Homo sapiens: one gene and its partner. The protein of the gene in region 2 interacts with the protein of the main gene of each other region in a pairwise test. Each region holds a gene or a part of one and is shown on either strand. Other genes may lie near its edges.

What was found.
Region 1: the proteins of FNIP2 (region 2) and FLCN interact in binary tests that used the Homo sapiens proteins (3 or more experiments, as listed by UniProt).

Annotation. Positions count from the first base shown.
Region 1 is NC_000017.11:17,219,282-17,227,418, reverse strand, and holds part of FLCN (folliculin), read left to right. Parts: intron 1-1,096; coding exon 1,097-1,243; intron 1,244-2,907; coding exon of another isoform or gene 2,908-2,961; intron 2,962-3,275; coding exon 3,276-3,497; intron 3,498-4,757; coding exon 4,758-4,918; intron 4,919-5,790; coding exon 5,791-5,882; coding exon of another isoform or gene 5,883-6,040; exon of another isoform or gene 6,041-7,852; intron 7,853-8,137. UniProt on the Homo sapiens protein: Multi-functional protein, involved in both the cellular response to amino acid availability and in the regulation of glycolysis.
Region 2 is NC_000004.12:158,760,459-158,777,324, forward strand, and holds the start of FNIP2 (folliculin-interacting protein 2), read left to right. Parts: upstream 1-8,567; 5' UTR 8,568-8,754; coding exon 8,755-8,861; intron 8,862-16,866.

The DNA of each region.
Region 1 (8,137 bases), on a different chromosome or scaffold from region 2:
TTAACCCACTCTGCCTCCCTGCCGTGGCCTTCATGTTTGTATTCACACACTCCAGCCTGTCCTGGAGGCGGGTCCCCAAAGTCCCGTGCTCCCAGTGGAGTTTCCTGCTCCCAGGACCCCCAGTGTTCTCGGTGGGTCACTCCATCAGCTCTTGAACTCTCGGGAATTAGTGTGAGTTTTCCCCAGTGGGCCACTTGTTTTTGTGGAGGACCTGGGTCAGGGCCCAAAATCAGGGGTGGGTGTTGGACCTGCCACTGCAGTGCAAACGGGAACCCAAGCTTGTTCTTTTGGTTCTGCTGCAGAAGCAGAGGACGTGTAAGAGCTGCATCCATTGCTGGAATTGCCTGTAAGGAATGGGGGATGGGGAGCACCTCAGACCTGGGAAGGAGGGCACCGCCAGGCTGCTGGGGCATCCTTGAGCTGGTTTTGGGGTTGCCCATGGAGGAATCCTGCGACACTGTGGGGAGAGTCTTGCTGACGCACTGCCGCACAGTCCTGGGGTAGGAGCAGCTCCAGGGCGCACAGCCTCAGCATCGGAGTGGCTGTGGCTGCAGCGGGGCAGCGGGGCAGCAGTGGTGAGCTGCCACACCAACATCCTGGAGCTTGGTGCTCGCCCTATTTATTGGGCCTCTCGCCTGTGGCTGAAGCCCCTTCCAGGTGTTAGTTCAGAACCAATGATGGAGGCTGGGGGCAGTGGGTAGTGTTACCACCACAGAGCCCCTCACCCTCGGGCCAGCTACTTCTCACTTCAGCCTCAGTTTTGTCTTCTGTAGAATGGGGCTTCTCACTGACATTATCTCAGAGGGTGGCACTTGGGATTGAATGAGATGGAGCATGCAGGGCCCTTTTCATGTTACCTACTTCGTAAGTGCTCAGCAAATACCTGTTAGGAACAACCTCTGGCAATCTCTGCGATCTCTGTGTTCTGTTTTCCTCTTTAGGAAACATTTAAATCTTCAGATAAGTATAAATCTGGAAGCCAATTATTTTTTTACAAAAATAGCTTGAGTTTTCCGAGCTCAGATTTGCATAAACCTAAGAGAGTTTGTCGCCCTGCTTCCCAACTAACAGATTTACTTTTCCTTTTCATGGACAGGGCTGCCGGTCACTTGCTGCAGGGCACCCGGGATATATCAGCCATGATAAAGAGACCTCCATTAAATACGTCAGCCACCAGCACCCCAGCCACCCCCAGCTCTTCAGCATTGTCCGCCAGGCCTGTGTCCGGAGCCTGAGCTGTGAGGTGAGCCTTGTGGCCACAGAGCCTGTCTCTGTGGGAGCCCACATGCTCCCAGGTGCTCTGGGTGGGCTCGGAGCCAGCATTGCACAGGGAGGCAGGCACTGGTCCTCTCTCAGGGCGGACCCGCAGATCAGCACAGCACAGGGTACAGGACGCCTCCCTTGTCCAGAATTGCGGGAGGAGTCATGTTGGACTTGCTGAGCATTTTCTGATTGAGTGCTAGCTTTTGCACTTTAAGCACCGAACTTTTATTATTTGTCCTTTCTTTATTATTATTGTTTTCTTTTTTCCTTCTTTTGTGTCAGGGTCTCGCTCTGTCGTCCAGACTGGAGTGCAGTGGTGCCGTCATGGTTCACTGCAACCTCAAACTCCTGGGCTCAAGCGATCCTCCCGCCTTAGCCTCCCAGGTGGCTGGGACCACTGGTGTGTGCCACCATGCTCAACTGGGGTTTGTTTTTTGTTGTTGTTAAGACAGAGTCTCACTCGGTTGCCCAGGCTGGAGTGCAGTGGTGCAATCTCGGCTTACTGCAACCTCCACCCTGGGTTTAAGTGATTCTTCTGTCTCAGCTATCCTGAGTAGCTGGGACAACAGGCGTGTGCCACCATGCCCGGCTAATTTTTTGTATTTTTAGTAGAGAAGAGATTTCACCATGTTGGCCGAGCTGGTCTTGAACTCCTGACCTTGTGATTTGCCCGCCTCGGCCTCCCGAAGTGCTGGGATTACAGGTGGGAGCCACTGTGCCCCACCTTTTTAAAATTTTTTTGTAGAGATGAGGTCTCAGTATGTTGCCCAGGTTGGTCTCGAACTCAAGCAATCCTCTGGCTCATCCTCCCAAAGCACTAGGATTACAGGTGTGAGCCGCCATGCCCAGCCATGTGTGTCTATTCTTGATGGATGTATTCCTAAGATAGGAAGCATTTCTAGGTTAGGTGGTTCATTGCATCAACATCACCTTTTTTTATTATCTCAGTCCTCATTCCAAGTCTCAGTGATGATCCCGTGCTGCTCTCAGCCTGCTGAGGTGTGGATGATTTCTTCCTAAACTACGTCGCTGCTGCTGTTGCTCTTGACTCTGAGCTCAGGTCTTTGTTACAAAGAATTCGTCGTTCAGTTACTAAACTTCCTTGTCATTGGTGTCCACCCAGTTCGACACACCAAGCTCCCTTACTGTTCTCATTCAGTGTGGCTGTGTGCCTGCCCTCAACTGTCCTCTCCTTTTAATTTCCTACCGCTGGTCTGCTAGCAGGCAGCTCGGCATGTCTGTTAGAATTGTGTGTTAAGGAAGAGTAAGTATGTAATGAGGAGGGACTGAAATCCTCTTATAAGAATAAAGTACGTGGGGCTGGGCATGGTGGCCCACTCCTGTAATCCCAGCCCTTTGGGAGGCCAAGGCCGGCAGATCACCTGAGGTCAGGAGTTCGAGACCAGCCTGGCCAACATGGTGAAACCCCCTCTCTAAAAAAAATACAAAAAAATTAGCCAGGCGTGGTGGCACACTCTTACAATCCCAGCTACTCAGGAGGCTGAGGCAGGAGAATTGCTTGAACCCAGGAGACGGAGGTTGCAGTGGGCCAGGATCACACCACTGCATTCCAGCCTGGGTGACAAGAGCGAGACTCCATCTCAAATAAAGAAAGAAAGAAAGAATAAAATGTGCGGATTTCAGTGCAGGGAGAGTGCAGTGGCTGCTCTGACCTGCTGGTTCTTCTGCATGCTCCAGGTGAGTAAGCTGGTACATTTGAGTCTGGGAGAGGTGTGACATATGCATGGGAGTTATTTATGGCTCAAGGTGGAAGAAAAGCAATAAGCCTTGTTACCGGCCCTTGCAGTCCACAATGACAAGTGTTGTTGGAAGCTTGATCACAGGAGCAGAAGAGTACAGTCTTCGGCTCTCATGGCCCCCACTGTGCCACTCTCCCCGTTATTAACGCTGGCTGATTTGTGCCAGCTGACTCTGAAAAGTCTGAAGAAGAGGCTTTGATTTGGTGTCACTAAGCGAGGAAAGGGCTGTCTGAGTCGCCGGTGTCCCTCCAGGTCTGCCCTGGCCGTGAAGGCCCCATCTTCTTCGGAGATGAGCAGCACGGCTTTGTGTTCAGCCACACCTTCTTCATCAAGGACAGCCTGGCCAGGGGCTTCCAGCGCTGGTACAGCATCATCACCATCATGATGGACCGGATCTACCTCATCAACTCCTGGCCCTTCCTGCTGGGGAAGGTCCGGGGAATCATCGATGAGCTCCAGGGCAAGGCGCTCAAGGTGAATTCAGAGATGAGGTGCCGGGGCGGCAGGGGGCCCTGCACTGCATGAGCCGCTCTGTGCTGAGGTTGAGGCCTGGAGACCGCGTGGCGTCTTCCCCTCTGCTTACAGCCAGTGCACTGTGTGAATTGTAGTCTCTTGGCTTCAGAGCTGGAGGTCGTGAGGAGCCTCCCAGGCCATCCCGCCTGCTTTGCTGGTCTCTCTTGTGCCCGTTGTCCTGGTTCTCGCTCAGCTCTGGTTTCTTTGCTGCAGTCAGACCCCTGGTGTCTTTGTTTCCTCTGGCCTTCATCTCAGGGATGTCTGTTAATCCCATTGAGTTGCACCACCGAATGTAGGCCTCCAGCTGTGGAGATGCAGCTCAGGCCAGGCCAGGCCAGGTCGTGCTCTGGTAACAGCCTCGGATCTCAGCACCTTCAAGCCATAGGGCCTGTTTCTTACTCATGGTGTGTGCATTGCAGGAGAGTGGGGCTCTGCTTGCTGTGGTCGTCCTGGCAGGCAGAGCGGCAGCCATATGAAAATGCTTCCCCTAGGCTGGGCGCAGTGGCTCACGCCTGTAATCCCAGCACTTTGGGAGGCCAAGGCGGGCAGATCACCTGAGGTCGGGAGTTTGAGACCAGCTTGACCAACATGGAGAAACCCCGTCTCTTCCAGAAATACAAAATTAGCTGGGCATGGTGGTGCATGCCTGTAATCCCAGCTACTTGGGAGGCTGAGGCAGGAGAAACGCTTGAACCCATGAGGCAGAGGTTGTAGTGAGCCGAGATCACACCATTGCACTCCAGCCTGGGCGACAGAGTGAGACTCCATCTCAAAAAAAAAAAGAAAGGAAAAAATGTTGCTCCTTCTGCCCTCCAGAAGCACAGATGGTGCTGAGGGCCTTGTTTGTCTCAGCTCATTGACCAGAGCCAGTCACGTGTGCCTTAGCCAAGTAGTGCACCCAGAAGGGGAGGTGGAGACAGGTGGGGAGCAGCGCAGATGGCCACTCACGAGAATCCCCCTGGGTGCCTTGGGTCACTCATTAGGAAGGGGACAGGAGAAGCTCAACCGATTTCTGTTCTCGGATAGCTCCTGATGTAGCCGGGGCAGAGCTATGCTGTTGGGAATGATTGGACTGGTGGCACTTTGTGTGCTCTGCATGGAGAGAGTATAGTGGGACTGATCCTCCAGGAGTCAGGTCCTGGAGTTGGCTGTGAACGAGTAGGGGTCCGAGCTGCTGGCAGCTTTGGCTTAAAGAGGCCATCCCTTCCCTTTGCATTTCAGGTGTTTGAGGCAGAGCAGTTTGGATGCCCACAGCGTGCTCAGAGGATGAACACAGCCTTCACGCCATTCCTACACCAGAGGAACGGCAACGCCGCCCGCTCGCTGACATCGCTGACAAGTGATGACAACCTGTGGGCGTGCCTGCACACCTCCTTTGCCTGGTAACGGGCGTCTCTGCTTTTGGCATATCTGTTAGGATAGAGCAGTCACGATACATTGGTTGGCTTGTCCATGGATTTGGGAGAACAGTCCTTAGCCGTGTTTGCTTGCTGCCTCTGTGAGGAGCACTGGCCTGTGGGCACTTGTCAGTGAGCACAGATCTGGGCTGGGAGTCCTTGTTCTGTAGGCCTCTTCCCCTGAGTGTGCTGAAAACATATTGATGTGGAACTCACTTCTTCCTGGGTTCAAGTGATTCTCCTGCCCCAGCCTCCCAAGTAGCTGGGATTACAGGCGCCTGTCACCACACCCAGCTAATTTTTTTATTTTTGGTAGAGACGGGGTTTCACCATGTTGGCCAGGCTGTTCTCAAACTCCTGACCTCATGTGATCCACCTGCCTCAGCCTCCCAGAGTGCTGGGATTACAGGTGTGAGCCACCGCGCCCAGCCTTTTTTTTTTTTTTTAAAGCAAATCTGAGTCGTATCATTCCAGCCATAAATATAATCACAATACTGTGATCATGTCCGACAAAACGGACAGACTCCTGAGTGTTCTCCAGGCTGCAAGCCCTTGTGCAGTTTACCTTTTGTCTCACAAGTGACTGCATTGGCATCGGAGCAGCGCCCCAAGTCTCTCTGGTTTAGAACAGCTCCCCCTTGCATCCCCTCCCCTCCAAGTTCCTCCCATCCATCTATTGAAGGACCTTGGTCGTTGACTTGTGGAACTGCCTGCATGCGGGATCTGGCTGGTTGTGCCCTGCTGGTGTTCTTTTATACCCATTTTTTCTTTAAACTGGTAGGATCAGGGGCTGGGTGAGCGTCAGGTTTGCTTTTTCCTTTGGCGAGAACGCTCATAGCTGGTGCTGTGTTCTCCAGGCTCCTGAAGGCGTGTGGCAGCCGGCTGACCGAGAAGCTCCTGGAAGGTGCTCCGACCGAGGATACCTTGGTCCAGATGGAGAAGCTCGCTGGTGAGGCAGGGGTGCTGTTGCCGGGGCCTTGGCCCGGATGGCCGTGGGGCGGTACCAGCTGTCTGCTCTCCTGGCAGGAATCGCTGAGGGAGGGAAACGCGGCTCTGAATCAGCCCAGAACGAGCCTTCGGGAAGCTCACCCTCCGATCTCGGTGTGATTGTTGTGATTGTTGTGATTTCCTGTCTCGTTTGCCTTGACCGCCATGTGAAAGAATCTGTTCCCCAGCTAGGTGGGGAAAATTCACAGGTGGGCTGTCTGTAGAGAGAACTGGCTGATTAAAGGCTTCTCGTCCCGATTTTGTGATAGCCAAGTGCTTGGCCTGGTCGACGGTCTTTGCTCCTTTACAAATAAAGTGTTCTGTTTCAGTTCGTCCCAAGTTTTCCATGAAGGGCAGTGGTTCCCTGACCTCCCAGGTGCCTGGGCTTCCCCAGGTTCCTGATCTGGGGCTTGGGGCCCTGTGTTTGGGGATCGTGGCACTGTGTGCACCAGCCTGGAAGCACTGGGCCAGTCTTGGCCAAGCTTTCCATCAGGGATGATTTGATCTTGGTGCTACAGGTCTGTGGTACGACCATTGTTCCACACCACATGTCATTAATAATGCTTCCCATGCTTCTGCTTGCAAATGACCAGCCTTCCAAACAGCCAGAGCTGTTTCGAGGTGTTTCTGCAGGCAGGTGCAGGCGTGCCCTCAAATAAGCTTTGCCAATGGAGTCTCAGCAAGAGCAAAACCTGGTCAGGAAAGACAAAGCCTGGGAATCCACCCCCATGCCCTGCAGGTTGGCTGGCCCTGGAGCCATTTATTATAGTGCTAATCATGTTTCTAGGCAGGTGCAGATGGCAAGGGCAGTGTCTTGGTGAGCTTTTTAGCACGAAGAGCCAGGTCTGTCGAAGCCTTTGTGAGAGCTGGAAACGCAGGTGTGCTGGGCATGCGCAGTATGGGGTTTCGGGCTCAGGGCTTGCCCTTTGGCATCAGACAGACCTGGCTTCGCATCCTGGATTTGCTTCTGACGTGCACCCTTCCCTTTGGGTCTCGTGATGTGAAATGGAGATGTTGTCATTTGTGAGGGCTCCATGAAGTTTCGTTGAAATGACAAATACTAATTTCTTCATCTGTGAAATGGAGATAATAGTGCTGACCTCAGAACAGCTGAGAGGACTAAATGAAATGATGTTGGATGTAGCCATAAAGAACGAAGTCAGGCACTGGTGCACGCCTGGAATCCCAGCTCTTGGGAGACCGAGACAGGTGGATTGCTTGAGCTCAGGAGTTTGAGACCAGCCTGAGCAACATAGGGAGGTCCAGTCTCTACAAAAAATATGAAAAGTAGCTGGGCGTGGTGGCGCATGCCTGTAGTCCCACTACTTGGAAGGCTTCGTTGGGAGGATCACTTGAGCCCAGAAGATTGAGGCTGCAGTAAGCCGTGATCGTGCCACTGCATTCCAGCCTGGGCAACAGAGCGAGACACTGTCTCAAATAAAAAAGATGGGAATAGTAGACACTGGGGGCTCCAGAAGGAGGGAGGGAGGGAGGAAGGGGAGGAAGGGCTGAAATGCTTTCTATTGGATACTATCTGGGCATATTACTTCCTGTGGTTCACTGTCTGGGTGACAGGATTCATAGAAGCCCAAACTTTAGCACCACGCAGCATACCCTTGTAACAAAGCCGCACACGTACGCCCTCAAGCTAAAACAAAAGTGGACCGGGAGGCCGAGGTCGGGGGATCATGAGGTCAGGAGTTTGAGACCAGCCTGGCAGATAACGGTGAAACCCCGTCTCTACTAAAAATACCAAAAAAAGTTAGCCGGACATGGTGGCAGGTGCCTGTAGTCCCAGCTACTTGGGAGGCTGGGGCAGAAGAATCGCTTGAACCCAGGAGGCGGAGGTTGCAGTGAGCCGAGATTGCGCCACTGCACTCCAGCCTGTGCGACAGAGTGAGACTCCGTCTCAAAAAAAAAAAAAAAAAAAAAAGTGGAAAAAAAAGAAACAACGTGTAGATCCTCGAGAACTGTGGCCGACTGGGTGTGTTCCGTAGACACGCTGTTGGCATTTTTCTTACTGATTTGAGTTTTCTCACCAGCAGAGAACAGCTGACGGTCTTTCCATAAGTGCTTCTAAGAGAGATGTGTGGTACCCCGGGCTAAGTAGACAGCAACTGAGCCCTCCCTCCCACCCCAGGGCTCCCAGAGCAACAGGGAGCAGGGAGCATAGGACCTGGCCGCAGCCAGGAATCTACACTGACCGGCTCAGCCCAT
Region 2 (16,866 bases):
TGGTTCATGCCTGTAATCTCAGTACTTTGGGAGGTCCGGGTGGGCAGATCACCTGAGGTCAGGAGTTCCAGACCAGGCTGATCATGGAGAAACCCCATCTCTACTAAAAATACAAAAATCAGCCAGGCATGGTAGCACACGCCTGTAATCCCAGCTACTTGAGAGGCTGAGGCAGGAAAATTGCTTGAACCCAGGAGGCAGAGGTCGCAGTGAGCCAAGATCACACCACTGCACTCTAGCCTGGGTGACAGAGCGAGATTCCATCTAAAAAAAAAAAAATGTATTCAGTGACTAATATCTCACAGATTCTATGCATGGAGTTAGAGATGCAAAAATCCAAAAATCCCCCATCTCATCCCTTAAGAAAGATCCATGGTCATGATGTAGTAGGTTCCTGAAAAATACTCAGGAAAAATACAGCTGTCTGCATTTTGTAATTTATAAATTAATTTATATGCAGCCAATTCTCGTGGTTGTTTGGCCACCAGTCATTTTCCCCACTCCCCCTTCTCTTTTTGAGAGACTTGGTTTTGTTCTGGTGAGTATCACTCCACCGGGTGACTCAGGGAATAGTCTCGTTAGTCAAAGACAATCATAATAACACCACATCCCCCTTGCCAGTGATTAGATGCTGCAGAGCTTCTGAGAAAATGAAACACACAGGGAGAGACCAGCCCCATCTCCTGCTGAATATAGTTGCACCTGCACATAGTCCCCAGAAGTGTGGGGCCATCTTGGTGCCAGCCCGAGGAAGAATTTAATACACAGAGGAGAGCAGAGCCAAGGGAATCCCAGAGAAGCAGGGGTGGCTCTAGTATGCCATGGCTGGCCCCTGTCCTACCTCTAGACCTAACATTTTATGAGGTAAAATGTCCTCTTATTGTTTAAGCCAATTTGGGCTGGAGCTTCTATTACTTGAAGTAAAAGGCAATAACTGATACAGTCTGCTTTGTCTCAGGAAGAGGATTTGGTATAAGAGGGAGAAGAGAGAAGGCAGATAGTATTACATGTTAGGTGATTCAGAAAGGCAAAATTCACATTCAGAGTAGGAGACCCAATATTGGTGATGCTGAAGCAAAAGGGCTTTGGGGTTAAGCCAAGTAATCAAAAACAAAAGTCTAAGTCCCCTATACGATCAGTTTCCTAATGGGGACTTACAACTGAACAGCAATGATCTCTTCTTCCTCCCAAAATAAATAAATGGAAAAAGTTAAGAAAGTCTTCCTCATCTAGCAATTTCCATGGCAAATTCTTTTGTGAGGGTCTAGAGCTTACCATGGTGTAGGGATGGCAAACTCCATTCATTTATTGACTCATTCATTCATTCAGCCAACAAATACATATCTGAGGAGATACCATGTGCCAGGCATATTAGTCAACAAGTCAGTCTCTGACCTAAAGGAGTATATATGTTTAGTGTGGGACAAAGGTGTTATAAATTTAGTGTGGGACAAAGGTGTTACAAATTTATTTATTGGTTAATTACAAATTATTGTAAGTGCTTTAAAGAAATAGAAAAGGGTGGTATAACAGAAACACTGGGGGCAAGGTCAGAGCTTTTAATTAAGAACACAGATTGAGGGAATCAGCCAGTCAACATGTGAATAAGTGACATTAAGTTGAGACCTGAAAGATAAATGGGAGTGCTGGGTGCAGTGGCACACACCAGTAATCCCAGCACTTTGGGAGTCTGAGGCCAGTGGATTGCTTGAGCTCAGGAGTTTGAGACCAGCCTGGGCAACAAGGCAAAACCCCGTCACTACAAATACAAAAAAAATTAGCCAGGCGCGATAGTGTGTGCCTGTAGTCCCAGCTACTCAGGAGGATGAGGTGGGAGGATCACCAGGAAGCAGAGGTTGCAGTAGGCCAAGATCACACTACTGCCCTCCAGCCTGGGTGACAGAGTGAGACCCTGTCTCAACAACAACAACAACAACAACAACAACAACAACAACAAACACATAGGAGTTAACCAGGCAGAACTGTGGGATGGGGGTGGGAGCACTCCTGACAGAGGAGGCTTGGTTGAAGAAATGAAAGCACACCAATGTGGCTAGAAGACACCAAGGGTGAGGTTGGGGGTGGGTGATGTGAGATGAATTTAGCGAGGAAGGCAGGGACCCAAACCTCTCTTGGCAATGCTAAGAATTTTGGATTTTACTAAGCGTGATGAGAAACCACTAAAAACTTTTAATCGAAGAAGGGACATGAAAAAAAGTTACACTTATAAGTGATCCCTACAGCAGCTGCACTAGAGTAGATAGGAGTTGGGCAAGAAAGTAACCAATTACTACTGCCAAAGTCCAAGAGATAAACGGGGCTTGGACTAGGGTGATGGCAATGAATAGAGAAATAAATGGATGAGAAATATTTTGGATGATGAGATAAATAGAAGGATTAAGGATGCTTCCTAAGTTTCAGTTTAAACAAATGTGTAGAAGGAAGGTGCCATTTACTGGGATAGGGAAGATGGCAAAGGAAGCAGGATTTGGAACAAGCAAAGATAAAGAGTTCAGTGTGTGATGCTTTTAAGATATCCCAGTGGAGATATTAAGTAGGTAGCTGGTTGTAAAATTCTGAAGAGAGGTCAGGACCAAAGGTAAAAATTAGGTGTCATCGACAGATAGACGGCATTTAAAGTCACAGGGATGGATGAGTTTATCTAGGGAGCTTAAGAATACAAATGAGAAGAATAGAAGTGAGACAAGAGAAGCCCGAGGAATTTCATACTTTAAAGGATAAGAGAGGCTGGGTACAGTGGCTCATGCCTGCAATATCCCAGCACTTTGGGAGGCCGAGGCAGGAGGATTGCTTGAGCCTAGCAGTTCTAGACCAGCCTGGGCTAATAGTGAGATATCATCTCTAAAAAAAAACATTAAAAAATTAGCTGGGTGTGGTGAGTGCCGGTGGTCCCAGCTACTCAGGAGGCTGAGGCAGGAGGAATGCTTGAACTTAGTAGGTCAAGGCTGCAGTGAGCTGTGTTTGTGCCACTGCACTCCAGCCTGGGCAACAAAGTGATATCCTGTCTCTAAATAAATAAAGGATGGGAAAGGAAGACCCACTAGTGGAGACTGAGTAGCCAACAAGTTTAGTTAAAACTAGAAGAGGTCTGCAATACTGAAAGATGAAAGTTTCCAAAAGGAGAAATGGTCAGTTGAATTGATTGCAGAGAAGAGAAAAATGTCGCTTGATTTCAGCACCATGGAGGTCACTGATTGCCACTGTAAGATTGTCAGGTGGATGGAGCTCTGCAAATACCGGAAGAATCAATTTATAGGATTCATTAGATTCAATGTTAGATTTTGAGGTTTTCTTCCCTGAGAGCTTCTGCTTTTTATTTGTTGTTGTTGCTGTTGTTTGTTTTTAAACAGGGTCTCACTCTGTGACCCAGACTGGAGTGCAGTGGCGCGATCAAGGCTCACTGAAGCCTCAACTTCCCAGGCTCAAGTGATTCTCCCACTTTAGCTCCCCTAGTAGCTGGGACTAAAGGCGCATGCCACCACGCCTAATTTCTTTTTAACTTTCTGTAGAGACACAGTCTCACTATGCTGCCCAGGCTGGTCTTTAACTCCTGGGCTCAAGGAATCCTCCCACCTCGGCCTCCCAGAGTGCTGGGATTACAGGTGTGAACCACTGTGCCTGGCTGGTTCTAACTGCTTATAAGGATGGTTATTTCATTATTTTTATTCTTTCTTAGACTCTCACTTTTTCCAAAAATGTAAATTTCCCTTTAAAAAATATAATAAAACTCTATCTTGCAAGTCCCACATAGGGTCCACTGGACCCTTTCATAACTTAACAGGATCTTGGTGATTCTGATTTCCTCTAGCTCCAGAAATTTTGCTATATCACTATCCTAGGGATTATTTCAACATTTTTCAGCAATTCCCAACTGTACAAGACAAGACAAAAATAGTTAAGGTGGGTGCTATAACAGAAGCACTGGGGACAAAAGTGAAATAAATCATCGCTATTAGATGATTCTTCCTTTATCTTATTGTAATGCCCAAAACACTGTATCATCTTTTAAGAGGGTAGAAAAAAAATCTGGAGATATTATTTTAATAGTATTTGTTGTTTTTTTTAAAGCTTTCGTTGATAAATATTCAGAATTTTTCATTTTTTCCCATAACGGCAAAGAGAAGAAAATTGATGAAAATATTTCTAATAATTAGAAAAAGCAGATGTCTAATGCAAAAAGACAGAGGACTCTATACTTTAAAGATGATGGTGAAATTTTATTTATTTAATTTTATTTTAGAGACAGGATCTTGCTCTGTTGCCCAGACTGGAGTACAGTGGTGTGATCATAGCTCACTGCTTCCTCGAACTCCTGGGTTCAAGTGATTCTCCTGCCTCAGCCTCTTAAGTAGGTAGGACTACGGGTATATACCACCATGCCCAGCTATTTTTTTTTTTACTTTTTGTGGAGAGAGGGTCTCATGCTGTTGCCCAGACTGGTCTTAAACTCCTGGGCTCAAGCAATCCTCTCACCTAGGCCTCCCAAAGTGCTGGGATTTATCGGTGTGAGCCATCGTGGCTGGCCTGAAACATGTAAGTGAAATCTCAGATTATGAGTCTTTAGATAATGATATCCTAGATACATTTTCTCAAACTCAAGAACTGACAATTCAACAACATATACCTAAGGATAAAAAGGAAATAGGGTATTCTCATCCAGTTTGACATTTAATAGGAATTACTTCCTTATTCAATACTTTGCAACAAGAACCTGAGCCATCCTAAAAAAGTGTGATATCTTGTCATCTTTCATGGTGTTGTGCATCCAATATACTTCATATAGTTTATAAGATAACAAATGATAAAGGCAGATGTATATATACAAAGGTGAAGGGAAGGAAATCTATAAGGAAGAGATGAAAAAATTCATTGGATTGCTAATTCTACTTGGTGTTTATAAATCTAAAAATGAAAATATTTTGCAACTAAGAAACAAAGAAAATAACTACTGTCTCTTCAACAAAATGATGAGCCATCAAAGTTTTCAAAAGCACTGCTTTTTGTTTATTCAAGTGCAAGCAGCACAAAGGTAATGATAAGTTAGAATCGTTAGAGATGTATTTGATTCTGGGTGTGGTGGCTCACACCTGTAATCTCAGCACTTTGGGAAGCTGAGGCAGGTGGATCACTTGAGGTCAGGAGTTCAAGACCAGCCTGGCCAACATGGTGAAACTCTGTCTCTACTAAAAATACAAAAAATTAGCCGGGCGTGGTGGTGGGTATCTGTAGTCCCAGCTACTCTGGATGGTTAGGCATGAGAATTGCTTGCACCCAGGAGGCGGAGGTTACAGTGAGGCAAGACTGCGCCACTGTACTCCAGCCTGGGTGACAGAGTGAGACTCTGTCTCAAAAAAAAAAAAATGTATTTGAAGCCTGGAATCAATATTTATAAGATGATTGTGTTCCTGGTTCATATATGCTAATTGATAAGTAGTCAGTTACGTTCAAAGAACACTGTCCATTTAGGGTAAATAATCCTTCAAATGCAGGAAAATATAGAATAAAAAACGGGTTTGCTGTACTGAAATTAAAAATTTTTTAAAGAATTATTTTTCACTATTCCTTTAGTCTTAGCTCTGTAAATAATTTGCAAAATCACTTAACAGTATGAAAAAACAGAACAGGACCATTGGTGACAAGTATTTTCTCTGGCATATTGAGAGATAAACAGATTGGCATTATGTGTCTCACATAACAAGCAATAAAGAGGACAGAAAACACGAACCTGCCTCAGCCTCTTATAGACTGGTCTATAAGAAAATAGAAATATTATCTCACCTAATGGAGAGTGTCAGGTTAGGGCAGAGGGATTGTGGCTCAATAATGCCATCAAGGACCCAGCTCGCTTCTATGTCTCTTTGCCATCTCCAGTCCTGGTTTCATCTTTAGGCTTGTAGCAAGATGGCATTAGACCTAGACATATAACATCCAAAGGAAGAAAAAAACCCACCTATCTCTCTCTCTCTCTCTTTCTATTAAGAGTGAGGAAACTTTTTCCAGAATTACTCCTTTTCCTCCAGCTCCTTTCTCTCTTGCCTCCTGTTAGGAATAAGGGTAACAGGTATTACATAGGCTACAAACGGTATCAATGACAGTCTAATTGCAGAAGCAGAACTAAAACAACTTACATAATATCCACTAATTGAGAACTGTCACCAGGACTCAGAATGGACCGGACTAAGTAAGTCAGCCCTTTACAACTTCCCCTTTCCCATTTTAGTGTTGTTCTGTCATCTCCAAGCATTCAGGATATTGTCTTATTCCCTGCTCCTCTTGACAGCTGCGTACAAGAACAGCCAGCTGGTATATTTTCCAAGATAGGGTGAGTGGGAAGAGGTGAATAAAGGAGATGTATGGAACTGGGCGATGGGCCACGTGACCAGTGTTGGAGACTGAGATTATGACAAGCCTCAGGGACCAGGCAATGACCAATGGATGATGGGCAAAAGATTGGATTTTTGTAGCGGCCTTGAGTAGCCAATAAAATAAAATAAAAATAAAAAACAAGAAGACTGGGAGAGCTGGCTAGAGCTGTCTCCCAGAACTTTTTTGGCTAGGATTTTTGTATACTTTAAAAATCCAAAGGAGGAGGTGTGGCCAGAACCAGGATGAGGAAGAATGTGATGCTGAGAGGAAGCACAGGGAGAAAGAGGGGAGAAGGGAAGCATTTTGGTTCCTTTTGTCTCCTTTAACTGAAGTCCTGGCTTTAATAGTTTAAAATACACACTCTTCCTTTATAGTTGCCTAGTCAAAACCAAAATTGAAGATGATGGCTAGAGCAGGTTATGATTTTTTAATTGCCTCTTTTGGATGATCTTGTCTATTTGGACTGGGTTGGAACTGAAAGAGTCCTAGGAAGTGAGGAATGAGGCACAATATGTCAAATTCCTCTTCTATATGCAGTTACAAAAGCTGCTAGGCTCATGAGGAACATGCAGATTTTAGTCTGGAGAATAAAGGACATTTTCTGACCAAGGATGGAGTAAGGAAAGGTGGTGAGTTGCTGGCCACAGTATGACCTGGGACTGTATCTGAAAGTCACAACGTATAAAGCCAATACCTTCTATATAGCATCCTGACCAACACTGGCAGCCCTATGAGGTAAAGGCCTTCAGCAAACAGAAATAGCAAAGTTGCAAATTAGGGTTCTGTGTACACTCAATTGTGCAAAAGGATGATTGCTCATCAGGATAAACACTTAATCCACCATTTTAACAGTAAAAGTCCGAAGGAAACAAATGACTAAGTTTCCATTTCTACCACCTTTCTCTTACCTTTGTGAAATTTCAGCACATTATTCACAGCTAGTTCCCAACCAAGTCCAGAAACTAACACAATTAAAAAAAGAAAATGCAAAGTAAAATAGGCCCAGAATAGGTTCTTTTGATTACTTATGTTTTTGGAAATATATTTTCCTTTTTGAGTCTCCAAGAGTCCTCCTCTCAACAAGTGTAAGAGAGCCCAGGTGAGTCACTGTTCACTACTCATGGAGAAGCTAGAAGAGGCATGGTTGGGGTCTTACTAACTTTATCTCTATTTCCCATCATCGGAAAAATTCGTGAAGCCCAACGCTCTAAAACATAGATTAAGAAGTTGCTTTGAGTCTGGTAACGTGTCCTACACTGGCTGTTTAGAGCCCTGCACCACCAAGGATTAAATTCCAAAGGGGACTGGGGTGGGACAGGGCAGGAAAGCGGACTCAAACACATGAACTCCTCCCTTCCTCAAACCAAATATCTGCTGCTGATATGCCTTGATTGACTGTTAAATATGTATTAGGAAAAACAATCCCTTGCTATAAAATATCTTAAGTTTCTAAATCTATGTAGTGAGTTCTGTGTGTGTGTGTGTGTGTGTGTGTGTGTGTGTGTGTGTATGTTTTAAAGGGGGGACTTAATATTTCAAATGCAACTTCTTATATAACCATGGTATGGTGGCCCAAGACGCCAAACAGAACAAATGATTTGGATAAACAGTTTAAATTTTGTGAAAGCCTGGAGGAATCGAATTTGGACATGGAGGAAACCTGACAAAACCTTGGGTGCTATGTGATTCAAATCACAGCCCACCGAAGCGGCCACCGCGCGTACCAAGCCTTCCCCCCTAGCATACGCCTTCTGTGAACGGGCTCTTGTACCTGAACAAAGCGAGGACCCAAGTTCAGGGGCTTTGTCTCTAAAGAACAAAGATCGGCCTAGCTGCATGCTCGCTGTGCGAAAGAACCCAGGCTCCGTGGGAACCCCACGCCACTCGCGGAGCTGCGCCCCGGCGGCCGCCCTCGCCCCTCGGGCCCCTTTAAGTGCCGCGCCTGCCCCCGTCCGCGTCCCCCGCGTGCCCGGAGTACTGGGCCGCCCGCCCGCTCCTGGCCGCACCTCCCACCTCCCGCCTCCCGCCGGGGTTACGTGAGCCCGGGGCGGGCGGCCGCCGGGCCAATGGCCGCCGCCGGGGCCGCCGCGCTCCTCCCGCGCCGCCGCCGCCGCCGTGGGGCTGCGGGCTCCTCCCGCAGGAGATAACTGTCAGCGCGCGAGGCGGTGGCGGGCCGGCTCAGTCATATGACCGGCAGCCGGCGGCTCCGGCGCCGAGCAGAGTTACTCAGTCGCAGCGGCCCCGCGCTCCCGCAAGGCTGGGCGGCCGCGCCGCCGCGATGGCCCCGCCACCGCGGCCGCCGCCCCCGGCTGCGCGCTGAGCCGCCGGCCCCCCGAGCGCCACGGCCGGAGCTGCGGCGGCGGCATCATGGCCCCGACCCTGCTCCAGAAGCTCTTCAACAAAAGGGGCAGCAGCGGCAGCTCCGCGGCGGCGTCTGCCCAGGGCAGGGCTCCTAAGGAAGGACCCGCCTTTAGGTGAGGGGGCGCCGGGGGGCAATTCTGGCGCGGGACCCGAGTTGGCTTCGGTGCTCGCCGGGGAGGGGACGGGTAGGGGAAAGGGAAGGGACTGTCCAGGACGGCGCTGCCTATCGCCGGCACCTGGTCCCGGGCTTGTCAGCGTGGACGCGCCTGATCCGAGTGTGGCTCCGGACCCTCCGTGACCCTTCCTCCCGCTCTTTCTCCACAACTCAGGGTCCTTCCCCATTTCAGAGTTCTCTTGTGTTCCTTGGGGTTCCCGGGCGTGCGCTGTGCTTGGCTGTGGCGACCGGAGATTCTCCGGTTATTGGGGTGAACCCCTTCCGGGCAGAGCCGCCTGGGCACCTCTGCGGGCCCAGCAAAGCTGTGAGCTGTCATTTTGAGGGCAGCTCCAACCTATTGTGTACGTGACAGTGTTTTGAAGTTCTGAAGGAGCAACAGTCACGAAAAAGGCATCTTTCTTCTTTCTTGCCATATATGACAAGCTCTCAAACGGATGAATGAAAGTATGTAATTTCCACATCATGTGGAAGGTTGATGCCGCATGATGTGTGGAAAGGGGGAGTAAGATGCAATTATGAAATTTCCGAGATTTCAATTGATCAAAGCTGATATGTATATTTAATAGATTTGATCTCTCGAACACATACCTTTGAATATTGATAGCATTTATGGAGAGCTTACTACCTAAAATGCTTTATGTTGATTTCTGTCGTTTACTTTTCTGACAATGCGGTGAGGTGGGTGCTATTATAATTCCCATTTTACAGGTGAGGAAACTTAAAGTCACAGATAACTTAGGCGGCTTGCCCAAAATCCAGCTGTCAGTGGTAGAGCCTGTGTTTTGACCCAAGCAGTTTGACCACAGATTCCAGTCTTTAAAATCCCTATGCTATTCTGATTTCAAGGGCTAACTTTTAAAAGACGCCTTAAAATGTCCTATATTGCCTTTGAGCACAGGTATGTTGAGAAGTTTATTTAACAATTTTTCAACACATTTTAAAATTGAGCACCAACTCCCAATTCTGACACTATGCTAGGTGCTTTTTGGCCAAAATGTCTTGCAAAAACAGTTCACTGTTAAACAGATCTAGACCCAGTATAATAAACCTTTAAAAGTTTCAAGTGAAACTTTGAAATAAATTCTGGATTAAGTTTTATGTTCTAGATTTTGCTTTTCTTGAATTCCATCATTTAAAACAGTCTCTCACTGTGGTCATGTGAAAATTAAACGTGTGTGTGTGTGTGCACGCGCGCTCATGGAAGGCATATTGTGAGGACCTTAAACTCCCCAAGTTAAATTCTCATGTTTTCTTTAGGCTAACAAGCCTTATAATTTGAGTGGGAATTCTATGCCTTTTGTTAGGCTGAGTATTAGTGATGCCATGTACCTTCTCAGAATGGTAGAATTACTTCGGACCTAAGGTGTGTAATTTCGTCCCTTCCCTCCCTGTAACCCAGACTCCATCAGGGGTACAAAGCCTGGAGCGGAAGGAGCATGTTACAGGTGTCTGTACTTTGACAGCTCTTGCCAAGGACATTTAAAGCCATTTGAATGCAGGAGGAGATAGTGGCGGTTACTTGTCATTGTTTTCTGTGCTCCTTGCCTAATTGCCTACCACCATTTCCGCTATCCACAAGTTTAACTGAGTGTATTTGAACAAAAAAAATATGGCTATATTTAGGGTTTTGGGCCATATTAGGGAAATTGATTCCCACTTCATGGGAACATTTTCAGTAGTGTTCTGACTTCTCATTTGTGTATAATGAAGAACAGAAAATCGTGCCAAGTACGGTCTTTTTTTTGACCTCATTGGGATTTTCTACAAGAATTTGAGATCGATGTTTTTGGAGAATTTGGGGATCCCAGTTGAACATCCTACTTGATGAGGGCCCCCTTCAATAGTGTCCCTGATAGAGGTCACCATGGAAAAGAAAGTAAAGTAGCAGATGTGAGCAAGGATGCTGGACGATGGGAACAAACCATCCTGTGCTCACCAGACTGACAAAGGAGACCCCAAGCAAGTCTTTCCTTTTGCTCTTTTCACCTGGCTTAATTCTAAGATGCTGTGTAGCTGGCCTGGGAAAAGCTTCCAGGAAAATTTTTCTCTCTACCTAAAAAATTGTGAACCTGTGTTTCATTTTACCCAGATTTTGCCAAATAGGAGTTGGTATGTACTTTGAGGGGAACAAGGTGCCTTATTGCAGGGCATTAGCTGCCCTTGGGAACTACCTTGTAGTTAAATAGAGTTTTAGAAGTGAAGCTAAAACCCTTAGATTAAAAATCGAGTATTCCTAACATGAATTTGTATTCTTTAGTGCATTTAAGTACAGGATGTAACTTGTTTATCTGGAGATTGAAAATTCACTGAGGATTCAGGTAGACTTTTGGGGCAGTTTTGTAGTGTATATGGGGGAGAATCTAAGATCCAACTTTTTGTTTGTTTGTTTTAGAGTTTGTATATCTTCTGTTTCCATGATGGACTTTCACTGGTTATTTTAAACTTCTCTTCTCAGAATTGTTTTGCCCTTGTTGTTAGTCTTTTTACTCTTGTGCACTTCCTAGTCCCTTCGCTGGGCTTATGACTGTTCTCATTCCTCCAGTTTTTACACACTTGATTAGAGAGGAAATCTGTTGTCCAATATAACTAGTTTATCTCACAGGTCATTTTCAGGACTTCATGTTTCCTGGCATTTCATCTAAAAACAGGATCATCATAGTCAAGATTTCTTCTGGAGTATTTCCTTTAGGATCTTGACAGAAAGCCCTTTTCATAGCTTTGAGGAAACAGGTTGCTAGGAAAACAAAAGGAATCACGATTGACCAAACTTACATGTTTGGGAGAAGTAGTCAGGAATGCTATATGATTATGGCATTTACATTTGAATAATGCTTCGTACCAGAAAAATAAATTAGGACAAAAAAAATGATGTGTACAGTGACTCAAGTCAGAAATAGAATTATGTTCTTGGTTACCTTGGATTTAAGGCCAGGATGTTTTCAAGCCACGCTATGTCCAGTGACTTACATGTGTGGTTCACGTTTGAAGCATTATCTTAAGGTTGTTCTTGTTGTTGTTGTTTTTTTCTCCATGTCTTTTGTAAATTAATGGAGCAGTTTCAAACCCCTAAAATGTGTATTTAGCAGGGAGGTGAAAAGACCTTGGGCTACCAGATGTTCTTTTATTTTGGAGCAGTTAAATGAAGTAGGGAAGCATATATATTATCTGGGATATGAAGAACAAGTGAAGGCATTGCAGCTGCTTGTTAGCTAGCTGTGTGAATGCCAGAGAAGAGTATACCTAAGGCCAAATGGCCTAGTAAGTGCTGATCCCCACTGTTTTGTTAGAACAAATTTAATCTGTTATAGAGTTAGTATAAGTATAATTTAATCCACTTATCACATAGCATCTGATGCCTCTGTGCTTGTGGCTTGGCGCTCTACCTGTATAAATCCAGGCAGGACACCCACGGTCTCACCTACTGGAGTTTACAATCTAAAGGACAACAGATTATACACTAAGATGAATAAAGAGCAGACAACACATTGGAAACTATAACAAACAGATAAACACTGATAAAGAGTAGATTTTTATATAAGCACAGAATTAAGAACTTACTTGCTGTTCTTGTGCTTGGAGTGACTAAGGGCCGGATTGTGATTTACTCTTCCCTCACATGGAGGGAAATTACACAGAAGTGCTTCCTCCGCTCCCACTAATAAGTCTCCAGATGCAAGTATTTCTAATGAGATTTGTTCTGAGGTAGGGTGGATAATATTTTGGAAAAAAACAGTTTTGTTCTAGTACACTCAACATTTTTAATGCCAATAATATAAAACATGACATATAAATAGCAGTTTTGATTTCTTTTGACTACTTTCTAAAAGAAAGTCTTTCTGTAGATTTTTCTTGCTTGCTGCCTTGGATCTATTGGCACACTCCTTACATCATATCTCCTTGTCCTGAAAGATACTATGCACTGGTTAGTGATTTTTTCAGAGGTGAAGAAGGGAACCCTTCCTTTGAATGCAGTGAGTTCTATTAAGAGCACTTGGAACACAGATTGAGGAAGCCATTGATTTAGCCCTGCCTCATGTACCATGTTGATGGGAGACCCAACAAGACTCCATTTCTCTGATCCTCAGCTTTGTCATTTGTAAAGTGACAGCATCAGACCTATGTAACAAAGTTGTGGTAAGGAAGTAATGAGCTTGAAAATCTTTTGAAAAGAATAACATGCAATACAAACTGATTTTAAGTATTACTAAGCATCTTTTTTTAGGTCATGGAGTTCAGTATTATTCCTGTTGAGGCTTTACGAAAATGGAACCATTTTTCAGAGGCTGTTTTCTTTCTGTAGATGAGAGTTGAGACAGTGCTGAATTGAACTGTTTTCACTTGCATATTAGTTTTTTAACCTTGATGTAGTCATTCATGAAACAGAGACCTTAAGTTTTCAGAGGGGTCTTAAAGATGTTCAGCGGACACTCACTCAAACCTGGTAGAGGTGACGGGGTGTCAGAAAGATTCTTAGAAATATGGTGTGTTTGTTTTTTCAAAGTTATTTGCAAGTTTTTATTATTAAGAATAAAATTGCATTTAGCCAAAAAAGGAAATTGGTTAAGCAAAATGATATAGTCACACAATGGATGACATTCTATAGCATCCAAATCATAATTTTATACACAGACACACAAAACAAAAGAAAAATGTTCTCAATAGAAGAAGTAAAAGCAACTCTAATAGCCTGACTTCACCACTGTGCAATCTATGCATGTAACAAAATTACACTTATACCCCATAAATTTATATAAATTTTAAAAAGTAAAAGCAAGTTATAAATTTATGTGAAAAACATTTAAAAATAGGAGCGATTATGCATGTGCAGAATAGGCCAGCAACACTCTACACCAACATATTATAACAGTGGTTGCCAAGAGGTAGGTGAAAATTTTATTTTAATTTTTTGTGTTTTATTCTTGTTGGTATTTTTGGATTTTGCTCTAATGAATTTGTGTTACTTTTGTGATTTGGATTATTTTAAACCTAAATATTCTAGATTATTTAACTATTAGATTATTTAACTATTTAAGATAACTTAAATAGCATTTAGCATATTCTACACTGTGAGGGAATAGAGTAAGGATAATGTTTATGGAGAAATCTGATTTGAATAAATTTCATAGAATCTTTCTTCTTCATCAAAATAACTGTTAGCTCCTATTATTAAAAGTAATATGTTTGTTATGAGGTTTAATGTATTTAAAATCTAAACTCATTATAAACCTCAGAGGCTAAGTTAATTGGCAGTGTCAATAATGATAGGAGATATGTATGTGCAAAATGTTTACTAGTTTGACAGGGTCGCTACTTCACCTGAGCTTCAGAGCCCAGTGTAGTCTTCCTGGGGGCTCAGAGTACAGTTAGGAGCTGCATGCAGCTCAAGCTTTATTTGAAATATGTTTAGAAAAGACTGACACAGCCCTTTGGATTTTGAGGGAATGTGGATAAGAGGCCTGGATTAGATGTTTTAAAAGCTAAAACATGTAGTTATAATTTTAAGTCCTGAAATTTGAATTTGTTGTATTATGCATTATTATTTGATTTAGTAGGTGGTACTAAGAGATGGACGGAGGCATGTGGTCTTTTAATGCATGGAGTATATAGCTCCAAAAAGAGCATTGGTTTTTGTTGTTGCTTTAGGTTGTGTTTCTCGTGGTTTGCCTGTAAGGTCAGCCTAAGGAAGCTACTTTGCCGTTGTGTTTCCTTGGAAAAGGAAGCTGTAAAAGATTGTCCTTGCCGTCATGAAATACTTTGGCTGCCAGCATGAACTCCTGGTGTGTGAATCTGATTTGGGAACTGGTAATGTGCTTTATTTCTCCAGCCACTGTTTTTCTTGGTGTGGGTGAAAAGGAACAAATGTTTTGTACTGATTGTACAAGCCCCTTGCTTAGTGTGAATTGTTAGGCCTGGACTATGAGATCATATACTTGGCTGTAAAAGTAAGTCTTTCCTTTGGATGTAAGAGTGCTGAAATATTTGGTGAGTTCCTACTTACCAAGCATTCTTTATCTCAGATTTATGAAAAATGATTATTATGTAAAAAAAGGAAAAACAGGATGGACTTTTCCAGCTAACTGGGCATGTAACAGTGATTTCCCTCAACCCCACCCCATCTGTAAATGGAACATCCATGACTCACTACTCATGGCCACACAGACACTTTTGTAACCAGTGCTTGAATGGGAGGGTGGGATGGGGATGGAAGGAGATGGGCTGGCACCCCACTTGTGTTCAGCCAGAATCTGTCCAGCTGCCTTTATAATGGACTTCTGAAAAGGACAATGTGCCTTCTCATGCATCATGCTACATATTTTTTTTTCCTTATTGCACTTTCTGTTTGTGCCAGAATAATACAATATATTAAGTGCAATAAAATGTAGCCATTAATACTATAATGTTGTGGATAAATGTTGTATAGCAGAGTACTCTTTCTGTTATATAAGATTTTAGTATTAGCATGAGTTTGGATCCCCGATTATCATATTTCTGTCTCCTGAACTGTGTGCCTTCATTTCTAGGAATTATTTTTCTAGTTATTTGTCCCTGTAAACTTGTTTAATTTGTAGATTATACTTTAGAATTTGTGTCCATCATAGTGCTATAAGAGATTTATATATTGGTTTATGAAGATGATTTTATTACCACACCTAAGACTTTTTAATCATAAATAAGAGATTTCTGTATTTGATATATATCTTTAAATAAATGATTGGTGTTTGGTTATGTGCTGATGTCTAATTGAAAATGACAACCAATTCATGCAGGGTGTCTAAGTGAGAATGAACACTGAGGCAGTAGGAATTCATCCCAAAAGCTGAGGGGGGCTAATTAAGAACCTACATATCTGGTGGGGACCTCAGCCTGATTCCCAGTAAGGATAGTTGCATGTTGTCATAGCAACTCTTTCTTCACAAGTTGAAGACAAGTTAGACGTTAACCTGCACATTCCTCAAGAGATGAAACAGGTGTTGATTTAGGATGTGTTAGGAAGCAGCAGCAAATTCACCAGTTCAATTGATTCTGGCTTTAACACCTTATAAATACTTCAGACTGCCAACTCTCTCTCTGATATGCCTGGAAAATTGGACATTTTTTGTCTTATAGTCAAAACCTTTGGGGTTATGGGGGGAAAAGTATGTTATCATTCATTTCTTCATTAGCTATCCTCATTTACTCAAGTTCTTTTATAAAATATGATTTAAAGATAGTTACAAAAATACCTTTTAAATTCAATGCCACAAAGTCTTTTAAAGCATACATTTGAAATAACTGTAAATGAAACAAGAAAACGTACATGTGATAGTTACAGCATGGCTGTGAGAGTTCGTCTAAATCCTAGCCTTGCCATTGTGTCTCTGCTTTTAATGCAGTGCTTGGCAGGAAGTTGGCGTTTAATAAATACCTGTTGAATGAATGAATGAATTCAAGAGTTTTGAACACTGATGATCCTTAAAGAGTCTCTAGTATTCCAGAATCTGATCTCTTGAAATATTTCTTGATGTTTCTAGCATGCGTTGTGACATTTTAGAAAATGAATCTTGTTACAGACAACTCAAAGAAATTTCCTCCTTTTTGTCAATATTAGTGAATTATTTTCCTGGTATCAAAATGATAGGGTAAAAGTGCTCTAACAGTTGATTGACCTGCACCCCCACCTCCCTAAAAAAACCTTTAAGAAGACACTTGCCTAAGTAATATATCAGAGATCCAGTTATGAAATCCCACAGCTGTCAGAAATGACCTACTGAAAAATGATTTAAATATTTATGAAGCTATGAAATTGTTAGCTGTGGGTTGATGATGTAGAACTCTTCTCTATATACTTTTCAGATTCATTTGAATTCTTGTATGGCTTGGTAAAACTGAAATACATTATGGAATGAAATGAGCAAATTGGTTCTCTCAAATTTAAGATAATAGTACACTTAATTGTGAAAACA